Linked DNA regions of Homo sapiens: region 1 is linked to region 2. The links come from fine-mapping of genetic effects on gene expression. A gene starts in region 2. The other region holds a variant in brackets. All regions are shown on one strand. Distances are from middle to middle. Region 1 overlaps CYRIA (CYFIP related Rac1 interactor A). Region 2 holds the start of CYRIA (CYFIP related Rac1 interactor A).

The links. PIP is the estimated chance that this variant, and not a neighbour inherited with it, causes the effect.
Region 1: its variant is fine-mapped to the expression of CYRIA in whole blood (TOPMed, PIP 0.92).

The regions. Positions count from the first base shown.
Region 1 is chr2:16,633,897-16,636,802 of GRCh38, reverse strand. All of the region lies in intron 1 of CYRIA (CYFIP related Rac1 interactor A), which reads left to right. Among named protein-coding and RNA genes, the nearest start is that of CYRIA, 30 kb to the left of the region's middle. The variant G/A (reference allele first, on the strand shown) is at 1,487.
Region 2 is chr2:16,664,518-16,667,423 of GRCh38, reverse strand. It overlaps CYRIA (CYFIP related Rac1 interactor A), which reads left to right and starts at 1,590. Exons shown (of 12, transcript NM_030797.4): 1 at 1,590-1,644. RefSeq lists silencers at 1,384-1,553, 1,624-1,673.

The DNA of each region.
Region 1 (2,906 bases), 31 kb after region 2:
TTTTTTTGGCAAGGGGTTGGGGGAGAGATAGGATCTTACTACGTTGCCCAGGCAGGGGTAATTTCTTTCCCTGAAGTTGTCCTACTTCCAACCTGTGGCCCTAGGTCCCAGATGGATTGTAACCAGCTTGTCCGGAGTTCTGAGTAAGCCTTGCAGAGGGAGTGTAGAGACCTCAACAAAAACATTTTCTCTGAATAGATAGGTGACTCAGCACTGGACACCAAGAAAGCTGCATTTAGCTGAAAGTCAGTAAGAAACTCGGGACCGGGCCTGGGGCAGTTGGCCTCCTATCCTGGACCATGAGCTCCTCATTCACAAAGCAAGGGGCTGGGCAGAGAGTTGCCCAGGTGGCTTCCAGCTCTGGCATTCAGTGCATCTGAGTGAGTTGTCATTTATAGACCAGGAAGGGCGAAATTATCCCCATTAATCTGCTCACAGTTCTGGTGCTTGAGAAGCCACTGGGTCTTGCCACATCTCGAATTAGCTCTGGGCCCTTGGGCTTTTAATTAAAGGGCTTTGTGAGTCGGATGGTTTATGGTCAGATTCAGATCTTCAGGGAGACACAGAGGGAGGTCCTGTGTTCTGTCATCTGCTTGTTTAGAAATCAGCTGCCACTCTCAGTGTGAGAACTCAGAATCCGGAGTCTTGCAAGGGACTTCCAGCAACGGCTGTGGTTACACCTCACCCCCTACTTTCGCTGACTCCAGACCCCAGAGGCTGAGGGACAGTAGATATGCTGCCTGCCATTGCCTCTTTCCTTGTGCATGTCTGAGTGGTGCCAGCCTGATCAGATTCTGTTGCAGTTCCCCGTGCTTGCCACAATGTCGGTCGCGTTTCTTATCCAACGCTGTTTCTGCTTCTGGTGGTTTGTGCTAAATGCATTTTCAATCCCAAGTGGTACAGAGAAGAAAAGGATTGTCTTTAAAAAGTGGCTTTGAATGTGTCGAAAGCAAGGTTGCCTGCTGTGTGTTTTTGACAATTGCCTCCCCAGAGGAGCCTTTGAAAACCTCACTTTTCAAGACGCTTCAACTCCTATTAGAAAGTGACTTAAATAAAATTGCTCTTCTGACCATCGCGGCTCTGGATGCCAGGCTAGTGATTATTTGTCTAATCTGAGTCTCCAGGGCTAGAACTTCACACCGTGTCTTTTCACTACCCTCCCAGAGGAGGTGAGAGGAGGTGAATAGACACTTGTCAGATTCTTCTGCCTGGTGTCACTGTGGGGGGATGCACACACACTGGAGTATAGGCTTGCTAAAGAGAGACTGCATTGCTATTTCAACTAGACACGTTTACTTTTCCCGCAAATGATTACTGAGCACCTATGGTGTGCCCGGTACCATGTTAGGGCAAGAGATCTACCTCATCCTTGCATTGTAAACCTGTAGCATCCGTGGCAATGTTTTACACCACTGCCCTCCCAGGGTTCCTGCAAGCTGACTCCTTTTATTTTCCTTGTGCATGCTGATGTGTTCAAGGTATTTCA[G/A]TGGGCTACTGTGAGACTATCTCCCCATCAGGATCTCTCAACCTTGGCACTAGGAACATGTTGGGAAAAGTAGGTCTCTGTTAAGGGAGGAAGAGGGGCTTTCCTGTGCGTGATAGGATGCTTGGCAGCATCCCTGTCCAGTAGCACCACATCTACCTCAGTTGTGACAACCAAAAATGTCTGCAGACATTGTCAAATGTCTCCTCCCTATTTTACATTTACCAAAGTGCTCTTTATGTCCTTTACAGTTAAGGAAACTTAGGACCAGGAAGAAACTTGCTCAAGTCAAACAGTGAGTTGGCGGTAGAGCTTTAGCTACAATTTAAGTCTTGTCTTCCCAACCCAGTGTCCATCTTATGGATCCATTCAGTGGTTTGCTCCTAAATGCTTAATAACCAATTATCTGGGATAAACGAAAGCCAAACAAACTTGCTGGGAGCGTGGGACAATTTCCATGGTGTAAATACTTCCACCATGGCTGGTTTCAAGCTACTTCCATGGCGTCACTGAATGTGAAGTTGGGAAGGGATCTGTACAGTTGGATCTGGTGAGCTGGTGCCAGCCAGCTCAGAATGCCCCCAAGTCCATGTGTGCTGCTGATCACATATTAGTCTTGCTCTCCTCTGGACCTTGTTCTGCCACCCCCCAGACACATGCCCTTATCACTGTGATGTGCTGTGGGGAAAGCAGTCACCTGGTAAGAGTTTTTGATAACTTCTCTGGATAAACATAAAGCAGTTAGAGTGGAGTTATCCCCCTCTTCTGTTAAATGAAAGTTTCTTTTCACAGTCTTTCCATTGAAGGAATTAGAAAAGTCATGGGATACCTCTGGTCTTAGAGCAGAAATGAAGTTCCCCAGAAGGGGGTCCTGGACAGAATGGTCTCTTGGGCAGGGACTAGATGCTGTTACTTACCATCAGATGTGTCTACTGTAAGATGCTTGGGAGGCATCAAAGTGGTGACAGTGGGGGGCTGTTGGATTTTACCATTCTGGAATATAAGAGAAGGGGTGTGGCTGGTGTTTTAGTCCAGATAGCAGCTGTGACCACTGGGAGCCTCATTTTCCACACCTGCAAAAGGAGAAATAGTGATCCCCTTCCTAGTGTTGGTGTAAAGAGTAGATGAACCTCTGCCTGAGTCTCAGATGCCTGCTGCCCACTTGGTTGCTTAGTGGATCGGCTGGCTGTCAACAGTGTAAGCTTATCAAGCCTAAATACTTAGTTGGTCTTGACTTTTTCACCTCGACCATGACTCAGTGTCATGTGCTCCTAGTCATTCTGTCTGTGGTCCAACGTTAGCCTGGGAAGCACCTGGGACTGAGGGAAGAACCCTCAGCTAGTTATTCAGCGATCCAGGTTCTCCTCCTGCCTTTGATATCACCTCATTATATAACCTTGGGAAACACTTTGGTGTGACTGGA
Region 2 (2,906 bases):
GAAGGCTTTTCTCATAGAGCCACTCACAGATAAAACACCTTTGCCAGACGGCTGCGGTGGTTCACGCTTGTAATCCCAGCACTTTGGGAGGCCAAAGTGGGTGGATCACGAGGTCAAGAGTTCAAGACTAGCCTGACCAAGATGGTGAAACCCCGTCTCTACTAAAAATACAAAAATTAGCCGGATGTGGTGGCAGGCGCCTGTAGTCCCAGCTACTCTGGAGGCTGAGGCAGGAGAATTGCTTGAACCCCGGGGGATGGAGGTTGCAGTGAGCCGAGATCACACCACTCCACTCCAGCCTGAGCTACAGAGTGAGACTCTGTCTCAAAAAACAAAAACAAAAAAAACACCTTTGCAGGAATTGACAACAGAGGCTGGTCTAGGGCATGGGGAAAACTCAAAAAGAGAACGGGAAAGTGTTTCTTCTGGTCCTAAGGACCCCTTCCAAGTGGGAAAATATTTCACTCTAACTAGACAGTGCCTTCCTGCCCTCTGTGAATTTTTGCCAAAAAACAGACCAAGAGCCTCTGTGGGCAGTTCAGGAGAGCCTTTCAGAGTGCAAAGGAAGCTTGGGCAACAAGTCCTCCCAGGGGAAACACCCTGGATCTCAGAAAGGAGAGGGGCCTGAACACCTTCTCCTGATGCTTCCCGCCTCCTCTGATCCCAGCCCACACAGGGCCCCAACCCATGCAGCTTCGGGCACGTACCTTGGCACACTATGGGGATTTAACACATGTTTCATGATGTTCTGGCTGATGGACTGGGAAAGGAAGCACCCGAAGCCGGGGTCCCCAGGAGCTCTCCCTCCCCTCAACAGGAGCTCTGACTCACAACCTGTTTGGCACTGCTGAGTCCTCTCCGGTTTCCTGAATCTCCCTCTCTCTAATGCAAAAAGCCTCCATGGCAGATGTTTTAGAACAATGATCACGTCAATGACGCTGTAACCCACTACTTTCTTTTTGCATCATAGAATTTTTTAAGTGTTTTTGCAGACTTACTCTTTAAGGTTAATTACATGTTTTGGATTGAGCCTTTGGGAAGACTTTACAGTGGTCCTATCGGATAACTGCGGGCCCCAAGGCTGGAGATCTGTTAATAGGGTGGGCAGAAAGGGACTGGGAGCGAGACTGGGTTCAGAATCTCAAGTAATTTGGAGTGTGCCTAGGGATTGGGATGATTTGGCTGGGCATTAATTTGAAGGTGAATATGCGTCTAGAGATTGCGGGGATTTCTTTTTCTTGGAGGGCAACCGTGGGTGTGGAGGAATTTGGTGTGCAGAAACAGAAAGGTCTGGTTCGGGCTTCCTCTGGGAAGGCAAGGCCAAGTGGCCAAGGCTGAGAAGGGGCAGGGGCGACCGTGCTGGGGCGGGTCCGCACCAGCTCCTGGGAGCAGAGAGCAGAGCCGGGCAAAGAGATGGGGTTGTCCAGGCTAGGGTGAGGACGCGGCCGGTGACAGCGCGGGTGGGGATCCCCCGGGGCCGGGGCGGGGCGGCTGCCGCGAGCCGGGCTGGGGGCGGGGCGGGGCGGGGAGGGACGGGGAGGGGCGGGGCGGGGCTCCGAGGCCGTCTCGCAGGCTGCGGCGGCCGCGGGAGAGGCGTACTCGGCGGCGGCGGAGCGGGCGGCAGAGCAGGGCGGCGGCGACTCGGTGAGCGCGGCGCGGCTGGGGGCGCGGCAGGGGCGCGGGCGGGGGTCTGCGGGCGCGGGGCTCGGCCTGCACGGGGCACCGCGGGGCACCGCGAGGCGGGGCGGGCGCCTCCCTGCCATCCTTCTCCTCCCGGACGCCCCTGCAGCCTTTGGGAGGGAGGGAGAGCGGAGGACACCGTCCGGGAGCCCTTCTCTAGCGATCGCCGGACAGAGGTCCGGCTTTGTGCCCCGTTGCCCTCTTTCTGAGAGGGCTGCCTCCTGATTGTGTTCCTTTCCCAGACCACCCTCCCTCGTCCCTCACTCACTTACCCCCCACCCCAGGTATCATAAGCTCCATTCTTGCAGGGGACCCCTAACACTCCCCTTCCCACCACCCGAGGCCCCGGGGTCCTGGGTACTCTCTACAGCCCCAAAGGGAGGGATGGCCCCCTCCCCAGCCCCTGCACACCTGGACCCTTCTGTTGCCACCTGCCACAGACGTTCTTAGCCAGCCAGAAAGCTGCTGTGCCTAGGACCCAGCACACCTTGCCGTCACCCTCTCTCCTCCCCCAGAACCCAGAACCCCAGTTTGGCAAAAGGCACTTTTCCAATACTGAGCTTTGGGAACAATTTGACCCACTTCCCAAAATGCTGGTCCCAGGCCAGCCATGCTTTTTGGTGGAGACACCTGTCTTGTCTGCCAGGAGACATTCTCTGTCAAAATGGGCCAGCCCGTCCCTGGGTCCTCCTCCAAGCTGCTCCTACTCGCTAGCCAGTGTCCCCAGAGACCAGGGCCAAGATCTTTGTCATTTAAGGCCTCCAAAGCTATTTCCCCACGCATCCCCAGAATTCCCCCAGCCACTGTTTTGGGGGTGCCAGGTCCAGAACTGATGGAGCAATCTTTCTGTGTCCAGGGCCTGATGTCCTCTCCCACACCCTTGTTTACCCGCCTGCTCCCCAGGGAACCCAAGACAGGGTCATGGGGCTGGAGTTTAGGGCCCTGATCTCCCCTGAAGCTCTGTGACCCTCCTTTTCTCCCTGTTAGAAACTTTCCTCTCTGTCACCAGTCACTATCTCCTCTGGATGGGACCTGGGCCATCTGCACAGTGTCGAGTCCCCAGGGCACAGAATGCTGATCTGGGACCCTGGAAGGCTGGGACTTGTGCTGGGGCAGCAGGAGGAGAGTGGCTGCTAGCCAGGTCTGGGCTTGGGTACCAGAGTTCTTTGGGTGGATCATTGTCGGCTTTCACTGATCTCTGGTTGGGGTTCGAGGGCTTGCTTTGC